Homo sapiens: one gene and its partners. The protein of the gene in region 1 interacts with the protein of each later gene in a biochemical or structural test. Each region holds a gene or a part of one and is shown in the gene's direction. Other genes may lie near its edges.

Region 1 (4,168 bases):
TCGACAAATAACTGCTTAAATAGCCTTGGAGTGTACCCCATCGTCTGTCTCCCAGTCCAATATGGTCCTTGCTGTTCTCCCATATTTCTACCTTATACCTTAAGCACCTGTGGGCATGCACATGCCTGACTGTTCCCTGAGGTGAGTTTAAAAAGCATGAAATCAGGTTGATATCCTTCCCCCATCTATGTAATATATAAAGGTTAATAGGTTATCAGATAAGCATTTGATCCTGTTTACTTGGATATTCCCAGCCATGACAGGTTAAGATCGACGTCTCCAACATCGAAATGAATGAAGGTATTTTTGTTAGACTTGACACTTCATCAGTGTGATTTTTTGCTGAGAGTGAAATGCAACCGCAGGAATAGTTTTGAAACATCGGCCCACTCAGCCTAACAATTTGGGCCCTAGTGTGAGGAGGTTACTGCTTCCAAGTTAAATTGTCTTTGGAAGCTAGAAAACAAGAGTATAATTTCTCACACTTCCGGTTGGCCAGGAAAGCAGGATCTTAAAAAGACAAATAAGGCTTGTGGAATCCTCTTAGGCTGGGGGTGATCAGAAACTCACTAGCATGTTATCTTAAAAAATAGCACTCCACCAACATCTACCTACTGGCACATCCAAGTATTCTCCCCTGACCCAGAGAAACATTGCTGGGTAAACTGTTTCCTAGAAACCAAGAACTGGCTGGGCACAGTGGCTCATGCCTGTAATCCCAGCACTTTGGGAGGCCAAGGTGGACAGATCATTTGAGGTCAGGAGTTCAAGACCAGCCTGACCAACATGGTGAAACCGGGCCTCTACTAAAAATACAAAAATTAGCTGGGCGTGGTGGTGCATACTTGAATCCCAGCTGCTTGGGAGGCTGAGGCAGAAGAATCTGCTTGAACCCAGGAGGGCGGCAGAGGTTGCGGTGAGCCAAGCCACTGCACACCAGCCTGGGTGACAAAGCAAGACTCTGTCTCAAAAAAAAAAAAAAAAAAGAAAAGAAAAAGAAAAAAGAGAAACCAAGAACTGACCAAAGTTCAAGGTGTAAGACTGTCATCTTGAGAGTTGTGGGCTGTTGTTTTTACATTTTTTCAAAACAGGAAAAAAAATTACCTTGGCCTTTCTAGAAATTCTCCTAAGGCACATATTGACATAAGCCAGGTTCTTCTCATGGGTCAGAAAATTGGCTTGATAAATCCATAAGGTGTGCATAGCAGTGGGGAGGCATTGTCTCCATCCCTCCTTCCCACCCCGTTTTGCCTGCAGCCTAATGATATTGCATCCAGCTGTTTACGTGGTCACTGGGAAAGAAATCCCAATGAGCAGTTTTACAGTATTGACCATGGCACTCACACTGCCAGGCACTTGGTTGGGCACAGTCCTTTTCTCCAATATTTGTGTTCACCCATTTGGAGGCATTACCAGAAACAGCAGGGCTATGGAATATGTCCAGATTGAGTGTTGTTTCTCCCTTAAGCTTTGAAAAGGGTGGCAGTGTTGATCTGCAGATTTAGTAAAATTATTATACAGCAGATTGACAGGAAAATGTGAGAACTGATGGGAAAAGAAACCTCCTCATGATATAGTTAAGAGTTGGATTTGTTGGCATTTAATTGAGAATTAGACCAATTTTACATTCTGCACATTTTCCCCTGTATTTTAGAGATCTCATCAAAGTGCTCAAATGGTACGTGGACCGGATCACAGAAGCAGAGCGGCAAGAGCATATCCAGGAGGTGCTGAAGGTGATAACATGCTGTTGATAACAGCAGAGTCTAACAAAGCTGTTGCATGCTGATGCTTAAACTAATTGGTTCCTCTACACAGACAGTAATGGGTGATGATGTATTACTGACATTCCAATTCAAGGATCTTAATCAGTTTGTGACTGCTTGAGAGCTGATGAAATTTGAAGGGGACTTTGCCAGGGTAGTCTACTGGAAACTGTTCAGGATTGAATCCTTGTTCCTCTGGGCTGGAGAGTACTTGAAGTGAAGTCTAAGATGAGCAGGAGAGAGGGAGGGTTTATGAGAGAAGTCTATATGGGGCAGTTAAGCTTAGAAGTTCCTGGCTCTTGCTTCCACCAACCTGACAGAGACCATCGGAGAACCATTTATGTTAAATTTTAAGAGCAAATAGGGTGGCTTAGCGGGGATTATAATGAGGAAACCTGAGGCTTTACCGGGTCTTGTGGCTTAACGCTGCCCACATCGCTGGGCACCATATGCTCAGTTGTCTGTGGAGATACTAATCCCTTACTTGCAAACATGTTGAAAAAGAGTACAAATTCTTAAAGGAATTGTCCAGTAACAGCCCTGGTAGTCTTCTGATTCCTGTTGTTGAGGACCATCCTATTTGGTGTCAGTAGCTTTAAGTAGACAATGTATACATTTTATAAAATAGCATTTTGTGAATTATTCATTTGTAATTTGGGCTGATTGAAGGTAAAATGCTAAGTGGCAAGAGTACTACCTGTCAAAACAAAATTATTTTTTAAAAAACAGTTATCTTTTTGTTGACTAAATTTAAAAAACATCTGAGGGTCAAAAACACTTAGTGTTCATCATACTCCAGAATGATAAAATTTTTTTTTTTTTAATTTTTTTTTTAGACGGAATTTTGCTCTTGTTGGCCAGGCTGGAGGGCAATGGTGCATTCTCTGCTCACTGCAACCTCCGCCTGCCAGGTTCAAGCAATTCTCCTGCCTCAGCCTCCCAAGTAGCTGGGATTACAGGCATGGGCCACCATGCCTGGCCAGTTTTGTATTTTTGGTAGAGATGTGGTTTCTCCATGTTGGTCAGGCTGGTCTCGAGCTCCTGACTTCAGGTGATCCACCCGCCTCGGCCTCCCAAAGTGCTGGGATTACAGGCGTGAGCCACCGTGCCCGGCTAAAGTGTTTTTAAATTTTCTATTAAAATTCTATTTCTTTTAAATTTCTTTTAAATTTAAAGTGTTTTTAAATTTTTTTTCTCTCATTAGGCATCAGAGAAAAGTGGCTGTTCCCCCTTAAAGTAAATACTGTTCAAAAAAGCCTCACAAGGCCTTGGTGTCTACATGAATAATGTAAAAGTTTAATGCCATACCATGGTTTTTATGCCGTGTCATTGCTAAATAAATACTCTTTGTCTCCTTTGAAGCTAACTTTTAAAAATTGTATTTTTAAGGCACAAGAATACATTTTTAAGTATATAGTTCAATCTCGAAGGCTGTTTTCCCTTGCCACTGGTGGGCAAAACGAAGAGGAGTTCCGCTGCTGCATTCAGGAGCTTCTCATGTCAGTCCGTTTCTTTCTTTCGCAAGAGAGCAAAGGGTCTGGAGCATTATCTCAGTCACAGGTAATTTCTTTTCATCTATGCTGAATAGAAGAAAACGATAAGTGCAGTTTATTTATTTTTACACAGCAGCGTAATCAAATGTTTTCTCCATCAGAAGTCAATTGCTCCAGTTTATATTTGTAGCTTAACCAACTTTATGAGTAGACTTTTAAAATTCCCCTACCTTCTGTGTACCAGCTGAGCAGAAGTGGGTTGCCTTTCCCTTCTCTCTCTGCATGGAGAGGCTATTGGTTTGCATCAGCTTCATTTCCGGTTACCAGAACACATACTGACGACTGGACATGCTGTCACCACCAGCCCTGGGGAAGGAATTTCACTAGGGCCAATCTCTTGCAGTTCTTTTCCCCAAGCTTCTCACTGCATTTTAATCTGTCAACTTGAGAATCATTATATTGGACTCAGCTAAGCTGCATGTTGTTTTGTTTTATTGAACTTGACCCTAATCATCCTGGGACTGATCTTTTAAGACCAGTGCAGAGCTGCTGCTGCCGCCAAACTCCATTACCGGAAGTAGCCCCACATGTTTTTTTTAAGAACAGGATCCATCTACTTCCCAAATAGCATGGCCTTGAATATGTTCCATGAGGTAATTCTGAATATTTTCCCTATACTTTCTTGATTCTTCTTGTATACTTTTAATTCTAATGACTTGGTTAAAAACCTGTCAGAAGGAGAAGCAGCCTCTTACCATGCCCTAGAGGTTAGAGAAACTTGTAATCATTGAGAACTGGGACATAAAAAGGGAGATTAGGAGACAAAATTAGATCCTTAACAGTATTGTTATGATTTGGTACTATGTGATGTTCAGAAAGCAAAACACCGGGAATGCACCAGCCCTCTGA
Region 2 (3,500 bases), on another chromosome or scaffold:
TGAGTTAGAGAAGAAGACAGAAACCTAAAACCAAAGCTTGAAAAGCTAAAGATTTTTCTGGATTAGAGCTAACAGCAGCAAATGTTTTCTATCCCAAGATAGTTGTTTCGGATAGTACAATATTTGTTTTAAAGGCTGTTGTGCATGCAGTTCAATGCCAAGGTAACTACACAAATAAAGCAAGATTGTCTGTAAATTGAGACTGAATAATATATGACATGTCAAACAGTGGGAAGTATTATAATATGAATGTGTCCTCAGAAAATTCAAGTGTGTTTTGGACCACTTGAAGTCAAATAAGTCAAATTTATAACAAAGGATTTCTCTCTAGTCTGTCAGTTACCACTACTTTTTCTTTTTCTTTCTTTTTTTCTTTCTCTTTTTTTTTTTTTTTTTTAAGAGATGGAGTCTTGCTATGTTGCCCAGGCTGGTCTTGAGCTCCTGGGCCGAAGCATTCCTCCTGCCTTGGCCTCCCAAAGTGTTAGGATTACAGATGTGAGCCATCATGCCCTGCCTACCGGTGCTTTTCTTAAGTAGATCTGCTGCAGTGAAAAGAAAATAGAAATTTAAATTGGATTAAGTGTAGGCTTTTAATCTAGAACTTGTTTCATATTTATGCTGGGTGATATTTCTCTGAACATAATGTACGTTGTCAAGCTTGGCATACTTACCTGGAAAAGCATTATTGCTCAACATGCTGTCATTGAAAAATAACTGCCTATAACATGAATGCTTTCTTTTTTGTAAGGACTGGGTTAAAGAGAAATGTGCAGTATCTTTTGAAGTCTGAGACTGTTAATTTCTGGCTTGCTCTTTGTTTGGCGTTTAACACCTGTCAGTTTGTCTGTTTATTTTTAAGACGCTTTGTATGTGGTAGTCGTTTCTTCTATGTGCTTTCGTCTTGCATGGATTTATGTCTGTATGGTTTCATGAAACTTGAAAATTTGGTCATGTGTTTTGGCAGAAGCAATTTATGACAAATTTTTTTGTAAGAATATATAGAAATAATCTTGTATGTGATTAAGCTGTTGAATCTGTTGCCAGTATTAATAGGAAATGAACACTGATTTCACATGAAGTTGTAATAAAAGACAATTAAGTCACCCACATTTCACTTATGGGTTTGGCCAAAAGATTCTGTAGAATTATAAAGGCTTATGACAGCAAAAAAGAAAGGGAAAAAAAGCCAATTTCGGTTATTTCTAGGGATTTCCCTCCACCCCCAGGAGACATTTGGCAATGTCTGGAGGCATTTTTTATTGTCTCATTGGGTGGGTGGGGGTGTGTGTGCTACTGGCAACTAGTGCCTTCATAGCCAGAGATACTGCTAAATGTCCTACAGTACACAGGAGTGCCCTACAACAAATAGTTTTCTGGCCCCAAAATGTCAGCAGTGGTGCTACTGAGGAACCCTCATTGAGACTATAAATCTATAAATGAAAAATCTACATCACATTGCCTTTTTATTATAGTGTATGGTAATTCCAAAGCCTCTTGCCCAAGTTTTAGCATTGATTGCTCTTCAGAGAATTCCTATAGTACCTGATGGAAATATACTTAGAGGTACATAAATCAGTATGTTCCTATCTCCCTCTGAAAGTTGGGGAGCCTTAACCCTAGTATCATGGAATTTCTGTTTGCCGTATAAGGCTATCCATGATTTTATATTTGAGAAAATTTGCCACATGCTGGTTCTTTTCGATCCTTACTCCTTAGATAGTCACCTATAAAGTTCCTGAAAGTGAGTTCTAAAAGGAAATGCCTTAAAACTAGCCAAAAAGTGACAGGAGCATAGTAGGCAATCTGCATAGTGGGAGAAGAGAGTAAGACTTTAGCAACCTTGTTTTATGATTGACACCTTCTTCCTTAAAGTTCCTCTTTTTCCTTCTAAATGTTATTTTTAAAAAATTCTATTCAACAGAAAGGCAAGATGCTAGATCTGTATTTTTTGGAAAAAATCCAGTTGCAGTTCTAAATTGGAGCCTTTCCAAATAAGGAAATACAAATGAAGCAGGACTTGTAAGAGACATACGATGTGATTTGCCAGCTAATCATCCTTCATTCAACACAACATACTAGAGCTGTGCAATCCTTCATAGTTTTCCCAAACAATTTTCCTGATGCTATCTTTGGTACTTATCTCAAATCTGTGAGGCCGACAGATAGGGATGTGGAGATAGAGAAACAAATATTGCCGCTTTCCCAAGGACATGTGGCTTGTGAGTGGTAGAACCAGACTAGGGCTTCGCCTCTGAGATAATTCACGTAGACTGCTTGGCGAGGTTGCTGGCACACAGTAAGCACTCAGAAGCTGAATATTATGCCATTAATGCTGATAAGGGAGGGAAGAATTCTTTGTGATCTGGCTGAGAGACTCCTTCCTCTACTACAAAAGTTCTGGATTTTATCACTGTGGTCCGGGGTGACCTCTCTGATTTGAAGCAGCTTGGAGAGTTAGCTTTTGGGAGATCCCAAACAATCATGTTTGCTTTAATGAGAATTAGTATATGGCCCAGACGGTTTTAAAAATGCTACCCACACAGCCAAATCCAGTTCTCATAACAATCCCTTCCTCACTTAGCAGGTGAGAAATGGGGGCTCGGAAGTGATCTGATGTGTGTTAGGGTGGGGTGAAAACTGGCACCATGGCTGGGCCTGCAGCCCTCCCTTCCTGGCTTGTTGCAGTGCCTGGCTCCAGCTGCTGTACAGTGTGTGCAGGCTTGATGTGGGTAACTTTTTGTACCCTAGGGAGTGAACTGTGCTCATGTTCCTGCCTTACACAGGGACTTGTCTACTCCAGAGTGTATTTGGTTCACTTTGTTCACATTAAGGACCACCTGTGTGCCAGGCTGTGCTCCGTGTTGGGGGCACCCAGGAGGAGGATGCAGCCTCTGTCTTGAGAAGCACATTTCATGGGAAGACACCTTAGCATTGCATGGTGTAGGAGGATTAGGGCCAAAGGAGAGCACCCCTGGGAGATGCTGGGCTTTCTAGCCTTCCTCCCATCAAAAGATTATTAAAATATTAGCATCCTTTTTTGTTTTTGTTCTGGAGTTTATGTAATCTCATGTGTTGAGTGTCTAGATACCCCTCATACCTGGTTCTTGAAAAATTTTTCCTGCCTCTTCTTAGTGAGTCTGTCATAGTATTAGTTCAAATAGCCTCATTCTTCATAGTATGACTTACGTGAATCTATATTCTCAAATTCACACAAATCAGCTTTATAAGTAGTCATACCTAGTTAGATATATTACATTAATAGATCCATCTATATTCATATATGTCCTCATATATTCTCTCAATATAATTTATTCCTTAATAGTCCTTAATAAATCCTATAAAACTTTCTTCATAGAACTGTGGATAGCCATAATAATCTTACAAAAAGAATTAGAAACATTTTAAGTATAGCAAATTTTGCTGGATTAAATGTGAGAAAACCTACCTCATTCTTACCGTAGACATTGAATGAGTATATCCTGCCTGCCTTGTGCTGCTAA
Region 3 (4,303 bases), on another chromosome or scaffold:
CAATAGAAACAGAGACAGATTGAGAGGATGAAAGATTTAGTTCTCCCACTCATGTGCACTTCAAGGCTTACACTTATCGGTTGGAAAGTTGGTCTTTGCAGAATGTTTAAGGTTATCTTTCTCTTTCTCTTTTTGCCTAGCACATATCATTAAACTCATGTAAGTAAAATGCACGTAAGTTCAACAAGCATCACTTTGTGAAAGTGATGGTATAAATCTTGATGGTCATTTATTTAAGAAAGCAAAATAAAGCAGGACTCCTGGAAATGAACCTAAAGTTATGATATACCTTCTGGGGAAGGGCACTGCCTGGAATAGCAAAAGATAATTAGGAGGCCAGAGATCTCACTCAACTGCAGGGGCCAGGCCAGGTGTGATGTCAGAGTAGTTAGGGAGGGATGCAGTTGCCAGGTGAGGGAGATGTCATGCCTGCTCTTGGGTTGGAGTGTGGCTGAGGGGAGTGAGGGAGGCAGCAGAGCCTGGGCTGGATCCTGGGTGCTGCCTCTAGCAGGATTCTCTTTACACCTTACAGGCTCCCAGGGCTATCCTTGGGTATCCCCAGATACCCAGGGGTATCTGTCCACACTACTGTGACAAATCCTAAGTATTGTACTTCAGCTCAGATTTATCATCTGAGCTTCAAATCTGGCAGTCCGTTGAACTTGTTTACTTTGATGTCTTAGAGATACTGTAAATCCAACCTGCCAAAACTAAATGCAGTTGTCAGGAGCAGAGACCTGGGGCTCCCAGCTGTGTCATCAGGGCTAATGGAGACCTCAATATGGGGCCTGATGTTGGAGAACTGGAGACATGAAGGGACACAAACCCCAAACTTTGTTGTGAGTTTAACCGTAAGTAAATAGGACAATTATAATACCTTCATATTTCAAGCCTGAAATGCCCAATCTGCTTCTATGAATTTCCTCCTGAAAGGCAGAGATGAATTTGGTGGCCCAAGTCTTTAAAGGACAGCTGTCCAGAAAAGTTGGGCACAGTGTCTTTTCTCAGTAAACATTCTGTAGCAAGCAGAGCCTTCAGAATGGTTTCACTGACTTCAGAGCTGAACTGGGATTCCTCTTAAAAATACCCACTGAAGAGTTTCAGGACTTGGTGGGGACCCTGGTTCTGGGGTCCTGCTGGTTTGTATGGGAGACATGGCTGGCCAGGAAGCCCACGTGAAATCTCCAGATTCTCCTCTAGTTATCATCTGTCTATAAAAGCCTCCTTCTGTTGGACAGCTTGGTGGGCAGAGAGTGAGGGCAGGAAGAAGCTGAGATCATTACACAGAATCAGGGGGTGAGCAGAGAGCCCCGTGTACTCCGACAGCATCAGGGTCTTGCTGAAAGTCCTGCTACATTAGCCATGAGCTGGCCGGCCTTGAACCCTGGGTGAAGAACTCCACCTCTTTACCCATCATGTCCACATGCAAAACATGAGGCTTGCTGTGAAAGAATGTCTCTATCTTAATGAAATTCTCCAAATTTCCAAGTCTTGCCCTTTCCGTGAAATAGGCATACAGGCTTCTGGTGCCTCTTTATTCCCTATTCACCCTTTCCCTATGTCCACAGTTGAGCCCCAGGTCAAATCTCCAAGGGCAGCCTGATGGCACGTGCAAAAGGATAGAAGGAAAGGCAGTCGTTCTCCCAACTTGTGGTGGGATGATGGCCAAGATTTCACCCTTGGGACCACCAAGTCCCCCTGGACAAGTGGGGAGCAAATCGCTTTTTCTTTGGTTGAACCTCAGATGAAGCCTTGCCTCTTGCCTCTCAGGCTGATGGCTTCCCTAGGTCTCTGTCCAGGCAGAGCCAGTAGCTGGAGCTCCGAATCAAAACCAGAGGGCAAGGAGCTTATTAGAAGAGGTGGAGGGAGTCTACGGGTGGGAGGTGAGGTGTGGACACTGAGGCAGCTGCAGTGGCCAATGGACACACACAGCTGCCATCTTCCACTCCTCAACAAGGCTTAGTGAGCTCAGAACGGAGGGAAGGGGGTGCTGCTTGAGGTGGTGGGGACAGTGGTGAGCCTAGGCCTGGGCAATAGGCTAGATTTCCCATTCTTTGATAAAACTTCTTGAATGTTTCTTTCCCATGTTTATAAGAAAACACAGTTTCTACATGATTTAGCCAAGCTTAAAGTCAATTTTCCCTGCAAATGCTCAAGAATTAAAAATGTCTTTTGACAGTGAGTGTTCCTCTTCAGTCTTTGTAGAATAATTTCTTTTTTATACACTTGAGTGTGCATATATTTACATGAAATTCACTATTTCACATACCTTGTAGCTCTCATGAGTGGAAATAATGTCTCTTTCACAGTGAAGCTCAGTTTGGGACAGATGCTTCCGGCTCTACTGGGGAGGAGGACGTGCTCTCTGGGTATCTAAGGGTTTGTAGCTATTGGGGTGCACCAGAGCCAATTTTAAGAGAAAGAGGCAATGCAGGAAAGGAGAAGGAGAGCAGCAGCACATAATAAAGCCAACCCATTGATTTGGGTGGGGGTAAGGAGGCTGAGAAATGAGGATCCATGTATTTGCTAAATCTTTGTGCTTTTCTCTTAGATATTCCTTCTCATCTCCTCTAACCAGACTTTCGACAGATATTTTCTGAGCACCTTCTCTGCATGTCTGCAGTGCTGTGTAAAATGCCCTACCTTTGCATGGACTATTCTTTCTAATCAAGAGGCGTGTGTGGCGAACTTGGGGCAGCCCCTGGAAGTCTTGTTCTTTGACCATTACGTCTGCGGCTGCATCACCAGATAATGAGCTTCACCACTCGTCTGCCTCCTGTGTCCTTCCGCGGGGAGTAAATGTCACTTCAGCTTGCCGCATCTCTAAATAGGCAAATTTTCAGTGCTCAGAAAAGGACCTGATCTTTGCACAAAGTGCTTTGATGGTTGCCTGCTTGAGTCACTCCCAATCCCTTCCTGAAGCCCTTTCTTTATAATTCTTCTGTTGAAATAGCCATCATATTCACAGTACTAATCACAGCATCTCACATTTACTAAAAACTTACCCCATACCAGGAACCCAGAGTTGGGGGGGCTGTGTCAGAATTATGTAATTTACGTGTCCCAATAATCCTAGACGCTTCTTGACCATCTAGTTTTGTCAAATGAGAAAACTGAGGTTCCAAAGAAGTCAATAAACTTGTCCAAAGTCTGACCGACTCTGCTTGCCATGTGACGAGTCTGTCTTAGAACTGGGTCATTGCCCTGCTTGCAATGCTGTGCCCTCTGGCAAGCCCCCCCATCCCCCCGGTCTCCTGAGCTCGGTAAGGTGCTCCAGCTGCTTCTATCATAGCACTTCCTACATGGACTGTAACATTTCTTTACTGCTCCAACTTCTCATTAAATTGGGGGCTCCTCAAAGCCAGGGTTGGTGCCTTATAAGTTTCTTGCTTCCTGGTGCCCAGAGCAGCCTCTGGCATGAGCTGTTTGAACACTGGCTGAGTCTCACGGGCCTGTGTCGTGCAGAGTATTCTAAAAGGCAAGGGGAAGGTGGGGTGAGGAATTTTTTTTATCAAGGCTGGAAGAAACATGGGCTTCTGTATTCTAGTCCTGAATTGGATGGGGAGGATGGGGAAGGTGACATGTACCATCCATGTGGAGCCCCTTCTCCCACCTCGGAGGATGAAGAGTATCTTACCATCAACTCTACATGCCAAGGCCAGCTACCCTGTGAAGAATGTTTGGAGGCAGATTCTGGGACCATTCCCTTGCCACAGTTCTGCTCTTGGGGCACTGTCCCAGAGTCTTTGCCTCCAGAAGAGTCCCCAGAGAGTGGGAGTGAATGGGAAGACCTGGAGGAGCCTGTGGCCCTGGAATACGGTGCCCTCAGGTGGGTATCACTCTGGCTGGGTGGACTGGGGCTGAGCTCTGACCAGAGCAGGGCTCAGTGCTATCAAGCCACTTCAACTGGGGGTGGGGGATGGTCTGTGGGCATTGCCCAGTTTCCCCTGCATCTTCTTTGGGGGTCATGCGTCATTGTAATGGCCATTTTCACAGAACACTTACCATGGCCCTTGCACCATGACAACGACCTACAACATGGGGACTGTCATCACCCCCATTTCACACATGACACATTTGGGGCTTTCCCAAGGTTATCCAATAAGTAAGTGACAGAACTAGAATTCAAACCTGATCGGTTCCCCACTCCACGGCCCACCTGTCGAGCACCCATCTGTTCTGCCTCCTATGTACAGGAGTGTGCATCTCTCTCCTCAGGTCTCTCTCTTTTGGGGGTCTGAATGTCTAGTGCTGATTCCTGTTTTGCCTGCTCCTACCTGCCCCTCTGCTGGATGTACTGCAG
Region 4 (4,168 bases), on another chromosome or scaffold:
CCTGTGATGGACCTGGAGGGCTTCAGGGAGCCACGGCCTTCCAAGTTTCAGGTGGACTGAAACAGGACATGCAGAGGTTGCTCACACACTGATCGTTCAGAACCCCTTGGATCCACCCCCTGGAGAAGAGGTACCTGGATGGTCAGGCCCACCTGCTTCTAGGCACTCCACAGATAGGAGACTTTCCTCCTTTGTTTTAGAAACTGGGGGAGTCAGGGAAGCCTTCCCAGAGGCAGTGACTTTTATGCTGGGTTCTGAAGAGTAAATAGGAGTTTTCCAGGCAGAAGAGAAAGGAATAGTTCTCTTTACAGAGGAAACAACATGTGCAAAGGGACGGAGCAGTGTTGGGGACCGGGGAGATTAGTGTGGATGGTGTGCTGGAAAATGGAGCTGAGAGGTTGGGCAGATCACGCAGGTCTCAGATACTCAGCTAGGGTGTTTAGAATGTAACCCATAGATAAATACAAGTTTTTAAGCAGGGGGATGACATGGTTGGAAAAGTGACCCTAGCACCTCTACCGGAGGTTGGACTAAGATGCCACAGAAAGAACACAGGGCATACCCTGGGTGGTTCCCATGGGCCAGAAGACACAGTGCCTCAAGATCCCATTTTATCTTTTGGAAAATACTGTGTGTGTGGCTTTGTGTGTGCCCTTGTTCTGCAGAAGACCTGATTTTCCTCAGAAGTGTGCATCCCAATTCTGTTATGGAAATCAATGAGAAAACACCATGTGTTTCAACATTTTTGTTTGAGAGCCAGCCTTGCTGAAACACATCCGATCTATATAGGGACGGTCTGTCTTCCTGTCTCCTTTTTCTGGAGATGAGAACTAATTGACTAAAGAATTAAAAGCATACATCAGGGTCAAGTGTATGTGTGGCTCCTTTGCTCTCAAAAAATAAAAAACAATGAAGAATTAAAAGTTAGGACTAGGGGTCCCTTAAGTGATTCTTTAAAAGCCACAGCATATGCTGGGCGCGGTGGCTCATGTCTGTAATCCCAGCACTTTGGGAGGCTGAGGCGGGTGGATCACCTGAGGTCGGGAGTTCGAGACCAGCCTGACCAACATGGAGAAACCCCATCTCTACTAAAAATACAAAATTAGCCGGGTGTGGTGGTACATGCCTGTAATTCCAGCTACTCGGGAGGCTGAGGCAGGAGAATCGCTTGAACCGAGAAGGCAGAGGTTGCAGTGAGCCGAAATCATGCCATTGCGCTGTAGCCTGGGGAACGAGCAAAACTCCGTCTCAAAACAAAAAACAAAACAAAACAAACAAAAAAAAAACACAGCATCAGGGAGTCAGTTAGCAGAGTGGTTAAGGGTATAAGCTGGGCATTTGGCAGAGAGACCGATTCTGGCTGTGCTCTCTACTGGTTGTGGGTCACTGTGCACAGTGCTGAACCTCTCCGTGCCTCAGTTTTCTCAGCTGCAAAAGGAAAAGCCTCCTTTTGCCTACATCAAAGAGTTGTTGTGTGAATCAGTGATACGCCTGCCTGGAAAGGCACAGTGCCTGATACAGGGACATGCAATGAGGTGGAAGTGCCTGGTTTAGACACAGCAGCAGTGAACTCCCAAATGAGTGCCTAAGCCTGCTGCTGTCCCTGCGTGCTGTGATGTGACATCTCTTTGCCCAGCTTTCCTTCTTTCTTTAAAAGATACCACCAGGCCCCGAAAGAGCCATGAGAAGGAAGGAGTGGAATATCACTTTGTGTCTAAGCAAGCATTTGAGGCCGACTTACATCACAACAAGTACGTTGCTTGATGGGCCAGTTGGCCCTCCAGGCAGTTGTGTGTTTTTGTATCTGTATTCCACTAGAGCTCCTGGGAGGACTCCCGGAAAGGATGGGGGAAGCGGGAGAGAAGTCATGTTGGGAGGTCCCCTTTGCTTTGCTAATTTAGGAAAGCTGAGGAACTAAAGGCCTTTTCCCCTTTGGTGGTGTTTTAGGTTCCTGGAACATGGTGAATATAAGGAAAATCTGTATGGAACCAGCCTGGAGGCCATTCAGGCTGTTATGGCCAAAAACAAAGTTTGTTTGGTGGATGTGGAGCCAGAAGTGAGTTGCTGGGCCTGCTGGCCATTTCTGGTTAACGGAATTTATAACTAGGGGATTGTACATTTTACACAACACTTAACCTCAGTCTAAGGAATTTTTAGTCTAGAACACTGGCTGTTCAATTTCTTTGGGTCTTCCTTTGAGAATCAAATGAAAGCCTTGTACCCCAAAACATGCCCCTCTATCCACAAATGCTGCATTAATTGTAGGGAGCTTGTGGACACTCTGGTGGCCCACAGACCCAGGCTAGTAACTCCTGCGTGGAACAGATCATGCAATAGTTGGTGGCGCTGACTGGCCATTGCAATGTGCCAGAGAATTAGATGTCAGTACCCAGGTGAAACTGGGGCTGAGCTCTCGGTGCCAGGCCTCCCCCTCCCCAACCAGGGCAGGTGGAGTCAGTGGCTTAGAGAACCACTCAGGGAGGCAGTGAGGAGAGCAGTTTAAAGGGGAAAAAGAGGGAGGGAGACACGGCCCTGGGAAGTGCTTCAAAAACATTTCCACTCCTGCACACCCAGCATGCTGTGGACTCAGCAGGGGCTTAACCATCTTTTTAACCTTGTCTTTTAGAAAAACTTCCAAGCTTTGAACTCAATCTGGGGATTTTTTTTCCCCTCTATAGAAACAGATCTCTGATTTTATGCTATAAACTGTAGGCTTTATTTTAAAGAAGTTTGCTTGAAATATATTCCAAAAAGCACGTTATGCCTATAAAGGAAAACACTCATTTGGACTTACAGGGAGTTAGTGATCAAAATTAAAAGTCTGAGTTTCAAAATTTTCTTTGAAAAGTGATTTTATTGATCACTTTATTGATCAAGGGTGCAGATAATGCATATAGCAGTTTAATACTAGTGTTTCCAAGTGGAGCCCTTACTTCTAGATAAAATGCATTAATCAAGAGTACAATTTCTTTTTCTTTTTTTTTGAGACAGATTCTTGCTCTGTCACCCAGGCTGGAGTGCAGTGGTGCGATCTTGGTTCACCGCAAGCTCCGCCTCCCGGGTTCACGCCATTCTCTTGCCTCAGCCTCCCGAGTAGCTGGGACTACAGGTGCCCGCCACCACGCCTGGCTAATTTTTTGTATTTTTAGTAGAGACGGGGTTTCACCATGTTAGCCAGGATGGTCTTGATCTCCTGACCTCGTGATCCACCCGGCTCGGCCTCCCAAAGTGCTGGGATTACAGGTGTGAGCCACCGCACCTGGCCCAAGAGTGCAGTTTCTACAGTCTACAGTTTTAAATGATCTGTTCAGTAATCTCATTTGCTTTGCAAACCTTTTCTTCTTTGAATACCAAGAGGAGATGTAATAGCACAAAGTTTGTAATAATGTAGTCCGATTGATGACATTTGACTAAATAGATACACACTGACTCCTGCTTCCTCACCCATCAGAAATGGAAGGTGGAGAGGAGCCTGAGAAGGTTAATTATAGCCGGAGGAGTCAGAGCTAAGAGAGACAGCAACTGTCTCTGAGCTGAGGCTTAGGAACCTTCTGTTGGCAGTGAGTGTGACTTCAGGGCCCCGCTGAGTTCAACGTCAAAGTGAAGGATGAGAAAAGGAGCAGTTGGTCTGCCCAGTTGAAGTCCATTGTCATGGGACCCATGTAACCAGGACCTTTGCTGTTGAGGTTATGGTATTGAAGCACACGATTATTGAGCTTTCAAAAGTCTATTTCACAACAAAACACTTCAAAAGTATATAATATTCCTGAACTTTCTTTCTCAGGCACTGAAACAACTGAGGACCTCAGAATTTAAACCCTATATTATATTTGTAAAGCCTGCAATTCAGGAAAAAAGAAAAACGCCACCTATGTCCCCAGCTTGTGAGGACACAGCAGCCCCATTTGTAAGTTTAAAGTTGATTGTTTCTTTTCTGAAGGCCTAAGGGAGGCTGTTACAGGAACGCTTCTAGCTGCATAAGGGTGCTTGCAGCTGAAGAGGGATGCGGGACACACCTTCTACATGTGATTGTCTTTCCATTTTGCCTATTGAAAAACTTAAGAGAAGATGATTACATGGCCAGAAGGCTCAAGGTGAACAGCTGGAAGTGCCTCCCAAACCAGGCAGGTGGCTTTGCCTGGGCTCACGCCCCTCCACTCCCTCACAT
Region 5 (4,850 bases), on another chromosome or scaffold:
GTACTGGTCTCTACGACACAGGTTTTATCTAATGAGAAATCTGTCCTGGCGCTCACGCCTGTAATCCCAGCACTTTGGGAGGCCAAGGCGGGTGGATCACCCTGAGCTCAGGAGTTGGAGACCAGTCTGGCCAACATGGCAAAACCCTGTCTCTACTAAAAATACAAAAATTAGCTGGGCGTGGTGACACAGGCTTGTGGTCCCAGCTACTCTGGTGGCTGAGGTGGAAGGATCGCTTGGGCCTGGAAGGCGGAGGTTGCAGTGAGCTGAGATTTTGTCACTGCACTCCAGCCTGGGTGACAGAATGAGACCCCATCTCAAAAAAAAAAAAAAAAAAAAGGAACCTAAAGAGGAATCTGCCCTGGCTTATTGTCTGTGTAGAGCCACAGAAACAACAGAATAAGCTTGGACATAACCAGATCTACCATGGAAATCTTTGCACAGTGCCTGACACCTAATAGGTGGTTAATGACTGTTTGTTGAAGGGATGGGGCAAGGTGCTTAGCCTCTCAGTTTCATCAGACCGGGGATAACACCAGGGCCTACCTCATTAGGTTTTCTCTTTCTTCTAGAATTTACTAACTCATTTATTCATTTTTATTTTTTGAGACAGGATCTTGCTCCATCACCCAGGCTGGAAGGTGGTGACTCAATCATAGCTCACTGCAGCCTTGAATCCTGGGCTCAAGTGATCCTCCCATCTCAGCCTCCTGAGTAGCTAGGACTACAGATGTGCACCACCATGCCCAGCTAATTTTTAAATTTTTTTTATAGAGAAAGGGTCTCACTATGTTGCCCAGGCTGATCTCAAACTCCTGGGCTCAAGCAGTCCTCCTGCCTCAGTCTCCTGAGTACCTAGGATTACAGGTGTTAGACACCACACCTGGCCTAGAATTTATTTTTAATAATTTATATTTTCCTAAAATTGTCCACTTCATCTGTTTTTTAAGTACAGGTTTCAAGAGGATAGAGCCTGTGTTTCTGTGTTTGTCTTGCTTACTGTTGTGTCCCCAGTATCAGTAAATGACAGAACAGCTCCCTGTAAATACTTGTTGTATGAGTGAATGTGTGTGGGAGGAAGAATTATCTTGGAAAAAAGAAGGAAGCATTAATAGTGCCTCTCCTAATAGTGACTCATTTTTTTTTAGGCCACCCTGGGGCCTTTTCTTATTCAAAACATTCATGAAAAAAAGTGCAGTTCCAAAGCATTGGAGCTACTGATGTAACAATTTTTTTAAAATACCATTATTAGAAGTGCAGCGGGGGATTCTCTGATCTTCTAGGTATTCTGTGATCTCCTGTGATCTTCTGGCTGTGATCTTCCTCTGCAGACCACCTCACATCTTTGAGACACCCTCCTCTGTGCCTTCTCCCCCTCCCTATTTCTTAGGTTCACCAAGAATGAATGAAGAAGCCAAGCGCGGTGGCTCATGCCTGTAATCCCAGCACTTTGGGAGGCTGAGGCGGGCAGATCGCTTGAGCCCATAGTGCAACAGTTGTGTTGAGCCTGAGCAACATAGTGAGACCCCCACCCCCTGCCCGTCTCTTAAAAAAAGAAAAAGAAAAGAAGGAATGAAGAAACCACCGTGGGTCAGGCACGGTGCTAACCTCTGCAGAAGTTTCCATACAGTACAATGGTGTGCAATGCCCACGCCACGTTTTGCAGGGTCCACGGGAAGCCTTGCGGCGACCTCACTGCCGCCCAATTTCTGGGCAGTGGCGGCGCAGCGCCCCCTGGCGGCCATCCCGAGGGCAGTGCCCGCGGGCAAGGTTCGAAACTGTTGGCATTGGGACTGACTCCAGCCTCTGCTCCGGGAGGCCCTCCCGGGCTGCCTGACCTCCCGGGACCATGCAGAAGGCCTCCCACAAAAACAAAAAAGGTAACTGGGGAGAAGGAAGCGGGTGAAGAAGCCCTGGGGACCAAGCCTTCGTCAATGTTCCTCCTCTGTAAAATGGCAACGGTGCACTCTTGGCCTGGGAGATAACCTCTCTCCATCGTTGTTGTTATCATCATCATCATTATCATCATCATCATCATCATCATCATCATCATCATCATCATCATCATCATTTGAGAAGGAGTCTTGCTTTGTCCCCCAGGCTGGAGTGCAGTGGCGCGATCTCAGCTCACTGCAACCTCTGCCTCCCAGGCTCAAGTGATTCCTCTGCCTTAGCCTCCCGAGTAGCTGGGATTACAGGTGCCTGCCACCATGCCCAGCTAATTTTTTATTTTTAGTAGAGATGGGATTTCACCATGTTGGCCAGGCTGGTCTCAAACTCCTGACCTCAAGTGATCCGCCCGCCTTGGCCATCGTTATTTTTATCAAGGTATAATTTCCATGCAGTAAGATCCCCCCTTTTAAAAGTACAGCTACCGTTTTGACAAGCTATACCCACGTTGAACCACCCCCTCCATCAAGATAGGGAACAGTTCCACCACTCCCTAAAATTACTTTGCAATGCCCAGTTGCAGCCAAACCCCACCCCACTGCAGCTCCTCACACCCCCATCTGTTTTTTACAGCGTTTTTTTTTTTTTGCCTTTTCCATGGAGAACATCATAAAAATGAAATCACATAGTAAGGAGCCTTTAAAAAATTATACCAATGTAAATAGGGACTTTGGCCCTTTCATTTTTATTAAAAGGGCACATAAATCTTAAAATAGCATATGGGTCACTGTATTTTATTTTTAGAGACAGAGTCTTGTTCTGTCGCTCAGGCTGGAGTGCAGTGGTATGCTCCTGGCTCACTGCAGCCTCCAATTCTTGGGCTCAAGCAATCCTCCTGCATCAGCCTCCCATAGCTGGGACTGTAGGCATGCACCACCACATTCAGCTAATTTTTTTTTTTTTTTTGAGACAGAGTCTTGCTCTGTGACCCAGGCTAGAGTGCAGCGGCATGATCTTGGCTTACTGCAACCCCCGCCTTCCAGGCGGGTTCAAGCGATTCTTGCCCCTCAGCCTCCAGAGTAGCTTGGATTACAGGCGTGAACCACCACGCCTGGCTGATTTTTGTGTTTTCAGTAGCAACGGTGTTTCACCATGCTGGCCAGGCTGGTCTCGAACTCCTGACCCCAAGTGATCCGCCCACCCTCGGCCTCCCAAAGTGCTGGGATTACAGGTGTGAGCCACCATGCCCAGCCTAAATAGAAGAGATGAGGTGTCACTATGTTGCCCAGGCTCTAATCACTTTATACTTCTGCTAGCCCCCAGGTGGGCTTACTGAAGGATGCAGACTCCTGCACTGAGCAATTCTTGTTCTTTATGGCTTTTTTCCGCACAGCATCAGGATTTGATAAGACTTGAGGTTGGCAAAGAGGCTGAACTAGGCAGGCAGGTGCCAGACAGCCTTAGGCTTTTTCACTGCAGGGCTGTTGTCATTTGGACTGCTTGTCCTTGGGAAGGTTGACATTGCTGTCTGACTAGCCTTGTAGCAAAACCTGTAAGTCTTTCATATTTTAGTCTGGTGCTTGGGGTCTGGCTCTCCGAGGACCATAGTGCTGCCTCCTCCACCTGGTTGTCCCCAAACACAGCAGCTCACTCTTTTCTGAGCTCACCCTTTTCCAGGGAGGAAGCATTGAAGATCTCACTTTCAACAGCAGTAGGATCATCTTTGTCAGTACCTTCGGGTTCCAGGGTCCCTGCCACTGGGCCCTAGCGAGCACTTTCCTCAGGTTTCATGTCTAATAGTTCATCCTGAGCATGCACTGTGTGAAGAGCCTTTGCCTAAAACACATAAAATACCTTTTCCATCTTCAGTGTTTTCCTTGTCGTGGTTTTCATCCTCTAATGAAATTAATTGACTCAGCTCCTGCACTGTTACATCTGTGCTTTCCTGCTGGGTGAGCTTCTTTTCTTCTTTCTCAACTAGTTTTTTCAGAGGGTTTTGTAAGTGCTTTAAAGTAGTGACTTCATATGGCTGATAACCTGTGAAGCTCTCATGGATGGCTGCCATAGTGTGAGAAGTCTTCTCTCCAAAATGAAGCAGAGTGGTCTGGTATGTTGCTAGCATTTGAGACAGGAGATTGCATGTATTTACTTGCTCCAAGAAAATCTACATCCAACTTCACTTTGTCAAGGTTTTTTTCTCTCTCTTTTTTTTTTTTTTTTTTTTTTTTTGAGATGGAGTCTTGCTCTGTCACCCAGGCTTGTAGCTGGGATTACAGGCATGCACCAACATGCCCAGATAATTTTTTTTTGTTTTTGAGACAGAGTCTCGCCCTGTCACCCAGGCTGGAGTACAATGGCGCCATCTCAGCTCACTGCAACCTCTGCCTCCTGGGTTCAAGCGATTCTCGTGCCTCAGCCTCCCAAGTAGCTGGGATTACAGGCCCGCGCCACCATGCCCAGCTAATTTTTTGTAACTTAGAGACAGGTTTCGCCATGTTGGCCAGGCTGGTCTCGAACTCCTGATCTCGTGATCTACCCGCCTTGGCCTCCTAAAGTGCTGGGATTACAGGCGTGAGCTACCGTGCCTTGCACAAAGTTTTTTTTGTTTTTTTTTCAAGATGTACTTGTGTTTCTTGCCTTCCCGAACTTCTGCATTTGCTTATAGAGGTCTGGATCAAACTCCTGAGACATGTCCTTCTTCTGTAAGGAGCCTTTTGAGTCTGGCTTCTTTTACTTAACCCTGCTGACTTTTAAAAGTGGGCTCCTGGTAGCTTACCTTATAAGCATATTGAATTTACAAACTGAGATAGGAACCACTGGACCTTGCCCAAGATGTGACTTCTCTGTTTGCTCAGGAACCAGAGGCTCAGGCAGGGCGTATCCTGCCCCCAGTTGCTCCCAGAACCCTGAAAGGTCTCTGAAGATGGTATCTTGTTTATATTATGCTATTTTATTTTCCC
Region 6 (4,168 bases), on another chromosome or scaffold:
GAGAGGCAGAGATTGCTGCAAGCCGAGATCATACCACTGCACTCCAGCCTGGGCAACAGAGCAAGACTCTATCTCAAAAAGTAAAAATAAATAAATAAATAAATAAAAGACATTGTCAGGCCTGGCGTGGTGGCTGATGCCTGTAATCTCAGCACTTTGGGAGGCCAAGGTGGGTGGATCACTTGAGGTCAGGAGTTCGAGACCAGCCTGGCCAACATGGTGAAACCCCGCTTCTACTAAAAATGGCACGCACCTGCAGTCCCAGCTGCTGGGGATGCTGAGGCATGAGAATTGCTTGAACCCAGGAGGCGGAGGTTGCAGTGAGCCAAGATTGCGCCACTGTATTCCAGTCTGGGCAACAGAGTGAGACTGTCTCAAAAAAAAAAAAAAAAAAAAAAAACATTGTCAATATAATGTTGAATTTTAAAAAGTCACTCTGCCAGAAAAAAAAAAATGCCTTGAAATGCAATCCATTTTTCTACCATGTAGTGATGGTAAGTAGATAGTGTCTCCTTTTTGTTCGAGTTTGGTGGATAGTTTGCTTTAGTGGAATGGGTCATTAATAACTATGTAAGCATTTACTTCACTGATCTCCAAAAAGGGGGGCATCAACTTATTGACAGTATATTTGAATTTAATGAATTGAGTGATCCGTATCTCAAAATCTTTCAAAGTAAATTCACAGAAAACTGACAAAATCATTTGTAAAGTCAAGTGTAATATGTTGTATTTATTTACTTTTTCATACTTTTTTCCTTTCTATTACATTGGAAAATATTTTAAAATAGCTACTAAAATTCCTTGATGGTTATAATAGTGACAGTTTTACTTACTAATGTTGATAGGAAATCTAACCTTTAATATTTGGGGAGAATAGACAATGGCATTGTGCATTACTCTAGCTATGCTGGAATAATCTTGTAATAGCTAATTTTTAACCTGTTGTGCTTTTTCTTGTACTGTTGCTCATATCTCTATATCTCGTCATATCTCTGTATAAGTTGAATTGCAAGATCATTGTCTTAGAGATGAATAATTATGTCATTTAAAAAATAGTCATTTATCTTCAGTAAGTGCTTAGTGCATACTACCTAGTGTTGCGGTGGGTATAGTAAACGTGATAAAAATGGTTATAAACTAGTTCATGCTATTATAGGGTTAGTCTTTCTAGGGAAAACAAAGAACACATAAAGCTTATTTTAGTGGCATTGGAAATATTTAAGCCCTTCAGTTTTGTGAGAAACTGGAACAGGAGAGATCAATATCTCTGCTCTGCTAAGGCAAACACCTGATTACTGTGGTACCGTATGTAATGCATTGTGACCTTAGCTTTTTTTTTTTTCCTCTCTCGTTGCCCAGGCTGGAGTGCAGGTGCATGATCTCGGCTCACTGCAACCTCCGCCTCCCAGGTTCAAGCAGTTCTCCTGCCTCAGCCTCCCACAGGCGTGTGCCACAATGCCCAGCTAATTTTTTTATTTTTAGTAGAGATGGGGTTTTGCCATGTTGGGCAGGCTGGTCTTGAACTTCTGACTTCAGGTGCTCTGTCTGCCTCGGCCTCCCAAAGTGCTGGGATTACAGGCATGAGCCACCACATTAGCTTTCTTAGCACACCTAAGTGTACTCCACCTAAATACCCAGTTTAGTGCTGATTTTACTTCTTGCACATTGGATTTCCTCCAGCTGCTTTGAATTATTTTAATTTCAGCTTTTAAAACACTTTAGATGGAGAATAATGTATTGATACATTACATCTTTGCTCTAGAAATTTGATTTATTCATTGAGGGGAGAATAGTCATTTTGAGGAGGCTATAATTTTTGTTTGTTTGTTTGTTTGTTTGTTTTGAGACGGAGTCTCACTCTTGCCCAGGCTGGAGTGCGGTGGCGCTATATTGGCTCACTGCAACCTCCACCTCCCGGGTTCAAGCAGTTCTCCTGCCTCAGCCTCCCAAGTAGCTAAGATTGTAGGCGTATGCCACCACACCCGGCTAATTTTCACATATTTAGTACAGACAGGGTTTCACCATGTTGGCCAGGCTGGTCTCCAACTCCTGGATTCTAGTGATCCCCCCGCCTCAGCCTCCCAAAATGCTGGGATTACAGGTGTGATTCACACCCTGCCGGGAGGCTATAAATTCAAATCAGTAATGTACAAGTATATTGGCTATCCCAAAAAGCCACAGTTTCTTCCTGGAAATAGCCAAAGCAGATCATTATAAAGTAGATTGTGTTGAAGGAGCATGCCTGATCAAATACTAAACGTTGACTTACAAGTATTACTAACAATCTATCATATGAGCAGGGTGGGGCTAATAAAACACTGTTTGCTAAGTATTCATTAGGCACTGTGTGGGCATTTCCATGCAGTTGCAATCTCAATAGTTAAAACTCCTATGTGGGAGAGGTTGGTATCTCAGTTTTACAGATGTGGAAATATGCGATTTACGGAGGATTAGTGATATAAAGTCCTAAATGTAAAAGGTCCTGGACTTCCAGAGCTCATGCTCTATTATTTCTTCAGAGATAAACCAACTGTTACTCTAAATCAGGGGTCTGCAAACTAGCTGCTGTTAGGCCCCTGCATTAAGAATGGTTTTTACATTCTTAAACTTTATATTTGACGTTGTTAAAAGAAGTACTGGTGGTGGTGGTGGTGGTGGTAATGGTGGTGACAGTGGTGGTGGTGGTAGTGGTGGTGGTAGTGACAGACCTTATGTACCCACAAATACTATCTGGCCTTTTACAGAAAAGATTCACTGATCCCTGCTCTAAACTTTAAAAAAAAACCCTAAAAATACACCCCCCTCAACAGTTACAATGTTTACCAAAAAAGAAGCTATATATGTGTACATTGAAAGTACTTTTAAGTCTTTGAGGGTCCTGTCCTTTGGAAACCTGCAGAAAATTTCTGCAGAAAACAAATTTTCTGCATAAAAATATTTCATTTAAGTTCATAGTTCCCTTGAAGCTTTTTTAGGGTCCTTAGACTTTAGGTTGAAAAATAAACACAAACAGAAGTATACAACTTTGTTACCGTAAACATAACTAAAACTAACATGCTGAAATCAATATTAACCACTTCATTATTTTGCTTACCTTCTTAAAATGTATATAGGATTCATATGGCTCAGGCGTTTCTAAAAATGCTGGAGGAGGGGGTAATCCCTCTCTCTATCCTATGAAGTGTATGTCTTTTTGATTCTTTTTTTTTTCCTCTTAAGATTTCATATAGCAGGCTGAGGGACTCTAGATCAATAGTTCAGTAAGAATATATGAAATTTCAAGTTAGAGTTCTTATTACTAAATACCTTGTTTAAAAGTTAAATACTGACTCAACATTTCTTCCCATGATATTCTCTGTTTTCTCAGAACAGTGTCACCAGGAAACAAGTATTATTAAATGACTTTGTTCTTACCTCAGAGTCATAGGACGTACTGACACTTTTTTGGCATGGCATCAGAGCACATCACACTTAATTGGAAAGTTTTAAAGCCAACTACCTGGTCATTAGCAGGTGTTTTACAGAGTAGTTTCAAAATCTCTCTTGCCAAATTGCTAAGACTGGCATAAAACTGTACACTTCCTGTATTTGTACTAGGGAAAAATGTGATATGCACGTTAATTATTTACCTTTAGATGAGCAGTACTAATTTTACTAGATATATATCAGATATTTTCTAGGTGACACATTATATTCTTTTCCCTTTCAAATGAGCGACAAACTCACTTTAAAAATTCAAGCTGTTAGAAAATATGTAGTATCAAAGTGAAAATCTTCTGTAATATCTTTTCTTAAAACTATTGTTAAATTCGGGAACTATTCTTCCATATTTTTCTAAATGTATTATAATTTGCTATTAATTTATAAAGGCAGGATCATACTCAATACTTCATTGTTAGCATCTTTTTTTAAAAAACTTACTGTATCTTGAGTTTTCTATATATACCTACTTCATTTGTTCTAACAGATGCTTATAATTACATTGACCATTAGTACCATAAGTTAACCAATTCCTTGTTAATTTTTCAGTTTCTCACTAATGTAAATAATGGCACCATAAACATCCTTCTACCTGTATCTCTGTGTAGATGGTAGATTTTGTTGGTTATTTTTGGCCATTTTTTTTTTGGCATATATTTGTATAGTATTGAGGAGCATAAAGAAGTTA
Region 7 (3,676 bases), on another chromosome or scaffold:
ACCTGCCCAGCTGGGCAGCTGCCCCAGCCCATCAGTGCCCACCCAGGCCCCACCTTCTTCTTCTGTCTTCATTTCTCTGTCACCTGGTGACACTTCTGTGATACCTGCCTGCTGTGTCTAGCAGAGAGAGGGGACCAGGATGGATGGGTGACTCTCCTGGGTCCTTCCCACTTACAAAGCCCCAACCCAACCACTGCCTTATTGCCCCTGAGACTCTGTCATGGATTTGTACAAAATGAAAAGGTGAAAGTCACCCATCCCCAGTTGCACTGCACAGAGGCAACTGCTTTCTGTGGTTTGGTCCTGCACTGCTTTGAACATAACTAGTCACTGATGAAGCTTCCCTAGGAGCACGTGTGTTTTAAGCCACCATGGCCACCATTGTCAGTATCATACACCACATTCCTATGGGCCTTCATGCCACAAGGCTCCTGGGTGATCTATTTCAATGTAACCTGGAGAGTGTTCTGTGGACATCAGGACTGGGAGAAATTCCTCCAAAAAGGGCTCTGATGTCAAAGAGGTGTGGAAAACCACGCACAATCTGTCTACCTCTTGGAAAGCTGCAGTGCATGTTAGCACATTCAAGACTGACAAATCCTGCAGTGAGTAGCTCTGTTCAGCTTATAACTCAGCTTTCCCCAAAATTATTAGATCCCAGGCAACTCTTTCAGGAGCACCTTATTACAGCTTCATTTATTCAACAAATATCTACTGAGGTCCTATTTTGTGTCAGGCATTATGTTAAGTGCTGGGGATATTATGGTGAACCAAAAAGACAATCCCTGCCCACGTGGAGCTGACAGTGTGGTGGGAGAGACCATCAGTAAACAAACAGATTAATGATTACGAATTGTGGAAAATGCCAAATAAGAAAAGATTGGGATGCTGTGAGAGAATAGGCAAGATCTACATTCGACTGAGCGGGGGTCAGAGAAGCCCCTTCTGACATTTCCTCTCAGACCTAGAAGAAGAGAAAGCAAGGTAGGGAACAGCGACATGAAGCCTCTGAGGCAGGAGAGAGCATGGCAGCTCAGGGACCTGAACAGACCAGCATGACTGGCAACAGGGAGGGCCGGCTGGCAGAATTGACTCAGGCCTCATACTGTGCTGGAAATGCAGGTCTGTGTCCCTCTGTAATAACAGAGGCTCATCATCAATGATATCCAGGTTCTCCTGAGCTGGGGTGAGGGGGTGTGGAAGGGACAGGGACTAAATGCCCTTTGACTAGCCACTAACCAGGTGGCTAGTTTCCCCTCATGCTTTCTGAGTCCACATGAGCTTTCAGAACCCAGGCTCAGGTCTCTTCTGCTGTCTGGCAATGACCCCCCTTTGCCAAGCCCTGGGCCAGGCACGTGTCACATACAGCCCAGTTGGCCAATCAGCCTCATCTGCCTGCAGGTGGCATTGTGAAAGGGGACGAGATCATGGCAATCAACGGCAAGATTGTGACAGACTACACCCTGGCTGAGGCTGAGGCTGCCCTGCAGAAGGCCTGGAATCAGGGCGGGGTAAGAATAAGGCCCCTCCCTCCTTTCCTCCCTCACCTGCCTGCCTCAAACCCTGGCCTCTGCAGCCAGGTCTCACAATAGGATGCCTCATTCCAGGGTGGGCATCTGGAGTCCAGGCAACACTTTGGTGACACCATACCCCATCCAGCCTGTGGTTTAAATCTGACAAGATGGGATTCAGAAAAATAGATGTCAATTCCTGACCTTGGATCCAAAAAGCCAGTGGCTTAAACAGACTCTTGAAGCCAGGGCATGGCAGGTCACCCAAGAAAAAGACTTAAGGTCTTTTCTAAGTGCACACTGAACAAGAATCAAGAGAATTCTGGGGGCTACCAGAAAGCATTAACAAAAGCAGAGAACCCAGGATGAAGGAGGGGCTGGTGGGAATCTGCTCTGCACTCATTAGACACCCACCTGGATCACGGCCACTGCATAAGATTGCCCAGGCTGTGCACTACATAATCTGAGGGGGTGCCCTTTTACAGACTGTAGTGTGAATGGTGCCTGCTCATGGTGTGCAATGCACAACCTGTGCAACTGTATGCAGGCAGCCGAGCCTGAGGTATTAAGTTCAGTGCCGAGGAAGCTGACCAGATGGGCCTGGGACCCACATGAAGGGATGTGGAGAAGAGAAGACTCACGGGTAACATGATGACTATCTTTGATTATCTGAAGGTCTGCATTAGGGCAGAGGGAGCAGAAGTGTTCTCTCTGATTCTTGAGGGAAGACCTGGATTGGATGGAGGGAAGTCCTGGGGAAAGAGAGAGAGATTTCAGCTCAATATTAGGAACCAGCTCATGGTAGAGGGGCCCAGTGATATTTCCAATACTTTTCAGGGGATACACCTAAGCCAAGGAGGGAGAATGAGGGGCAAGTCAAGGATGGCAGTAAAAGGGATTCAGGTGTTAGGATCAAAAAGCTGGGCCAGAAGTCCCCCACTTGATTGTGCATCAGAAAGTGCGTCGGAATTACCCAGAGAGGTTGTTAAAAGTACTATTTCCCAGGACTCACCCTTGACTTCTGGGGGCCAAGTCTACGAGCCTACACTTTTAAGAAGTTCCCCCAAGTGATTCTGAGGTTGCTGCCTGTCCCCGGTCCATAGATTGACATTTGGGAGCTGAGTGTCATTCAAGGGCCTTGCAGCCCTGTCCTCTATGGTCCCGAAGCCTCAGAGACTAGAAACGTCCTCAGACCATGGAAGTCACAGTGGGCCCCAGGTGGGCCCGTGGGAAGAAGGTGCAGCCTGGCTGATCCTAGGCCATGGGGCCCAGAAATGGGGATGGAGTGCCGGGGCAGATGCACCATCCAACTGAGTGTGCCCCAGAGTCACACGGCTTCTCCCCACAGGACTGGATCGACCTTGTGGTTGCCGTCTGCCCCCCAAAGGAGTATGACGATGAGCTGTAAGTGTGTGCAAGCACCTAGCCTGAGACCTCTTCTTCCTTCTCCAGAATCTCAGCCACCTTTCTCCAGCCCATCCCCAGCCTTCTCCCAGCCTGAAGGAATGGCCCAAGCACGCAGCTTCTCATAGCCAGAGCTCCTAGAAAACTCCTGGACTAGAGCCAAGTCATTGTCCTTAAGCAGTGTCTGAGCTGCCTCCCGGGCAGTCTTGTCCAAATTCTTCTCTACTATGGGGAATTGAGGCATGAGGTCTTAGACCGGGTAAGCAGAGACGTTGGGAAAAAGACTCAGGATTGTTAATTCCCCACTCAGAACTTTATCCCCTGCCCCATTATTAGATGGTTAGAAGGTGTCTGTGTCCATCCTTCACTCTCTGGAAGGTCTTCCTGATGTCTAACTGCATTCACTCATACTGTGCCTCTAGGCAGCCGGGACCACAGGCTTTTGTCCCCACGCTGTGGGATCTCCAGGGAGCTTTGGCCTAGACTGTCTCTCTCTGTGATTCCCTGTGTGTCTGTCTCTTGTGTCCTGTGGGTCTCTCTGTCTTCTCTCCTCCTCCCTCTCTGTCTTTCTTTCACCCTTTCCTTCCTTCCTGTCAACATCTTATCTGCCCCCCTCCTTCCCCTTCATCCCGGTCCCCTTTCTCTCTCACTGTCTCCTATTCTTTCTTCCTGTTTCTCTTCATCCCTGTCTCTGAGTCCCTGTTCCTCTGTCCTTGTCATTCTGCATCCATTCTTACCTCTTTGTCTGCCTTTCTCTGTTT

What was found.
Region 2: the proteins of DOCK4 (region 1) and LMO7 interact in a test that uses a peptide from one of them, tested with the Homo sapiens proteins (one large-scale study listed by IntAct).
Region 3: the proteins of DOCK4 (region 1) and FRMPD2 interact in a test that uses a peptide from one of them, tested with the Homo sapiens proteins (one large-scale study listed by IntAct).
Region 4: the proteins of DOCK4 (region 1) and MPP3 interact in a test that uses a peptide from one of them, tested with the Homo sapiens proteins (one large-scale study listed by IntAct).
Region 5: the proteins of DOCK4 (region 1) and PDZD9 interact in a test that uses a peptide from one of them, tested with the Homo sapiens proteins (one large-scale study listed by IntAct).
Region 6: the proteins of DOCK4 (region 1) and PDZD8 interact in a test that uses a peptide from one of them, tested with the Homo sapiens proteins (one large-scale study listed by IntAct).
Region 7: the proteins of DOCK4 (region 1) and USH1C interact in a test that uses a peptide from one of them, tested with the Homo sapiens proteins (one large-scale study listed by IntAct).

What each region holds. Positions count from the first base shown.
Region 1 is NC_000007.14:111,867,142-111,871,309, reverse strand, and holds part of DOCK4 (dedicator of cytokinesis protein 4), read left to right. Parts: intron 1-1,654; coding exon 1,655-1,736; intron 1,737-3,155; coding exon 3,156-3,326; intron 3,327-4,168. UniProt on the Homo sapiens protein: Functions as a guanine nucleotide exchange factor (GEF) that promotes the exchange of GDP to GTP, converting inactive GDP-bound small GTPases into their active GTP-bound form. Involved in regulation of adherens junction between cells.
Region 2 is NC_000013.11:75,810,830-75,814,329, forward strand, and holds part of LMO7 (LIM domain only protein 7), read left to right. Parts: intron 1-3,500.
Region 3 is NC_000010.11:48,155,619-48,159,921, reverse strand, and holds the end of FRMPD2 (FERM and PDZ domain-containing protein 2), read left to right. Parts: intron 1-2,551; coding exon 2,552-2,600; 3' UTR 2,601-3,360; downstream 3,361-4,303.
Region 4 is NC_000017.11:43,808,695-43,812,862, reverse strand, and holds part of MPP3 (MAGUK p55 subfamily member 3), read left to right. Parts: intron 1-1,657; coding exon 1,658-1,751; intron 1,752-1,947; coding exon 1,948-2,056; intron 2,057-3,784; coding exon 3,785-3,907; intron 3,908-4,168. UniProt on the Homo sapiens protein: Participates in cell spreading through the phosphoinositide-3-kinase (PI3K) pathway by connecting CADM1 to DLG1 and the regulatory subunit of phosphoinositide-3-kinase (PI3K). Stabilizes HTR2C at the plasma membrane and prevents its desensitization.
Region 5 is NC_000016.10:21,998,047-22,002,896, reverse strand, and holds the start of PDZD9 (PDZ domain-containing protein 9), read left to right. Parts: upstream 1-1,780; 5' UTR 1,781-1,849; coding exon 1,850-1,880; intron 1,881-4,850.
Region 6 is NC_000010.11:117,365,084-117,369,251, reverse strand, and holds part of PDZD8 (PDZ domain-containing protein 8), read left to right. Parts: intron 1-4,168. UniProt on the Homo sapiens protein: Molecular tethering protein that connects endoplasmic reticulum and mitochondria membranes. PDZD8-dependent endoplasmic reticulum-mitochondria membrane tethering is essential for endoplasmic reticulum-mitochondria Ca(2+) transfer.
Region 7 is NC_000011.10:17,495,997-17,499,672, reverse strand, and holds part of USH1C (harmonin), read left to right. Parts: intron 1-1,401; coding exon 1,402-1,511; intron 1,512-2,058; coding exon of another isoform or gene 2,059-2,154; intron 2,155-2,859; coding exon 2,860-2,915; intron 2,916-3,676. UniProt on the Homo sapiens protein: Anchoring/scaffolding protein that is a part of the functional network formed by USH1C, USH1G, CDH23 and MYO7A that mediates mechanotransduction in cochlear hair cells. Required for normal development and maintenance of cochlear hair cell bundles.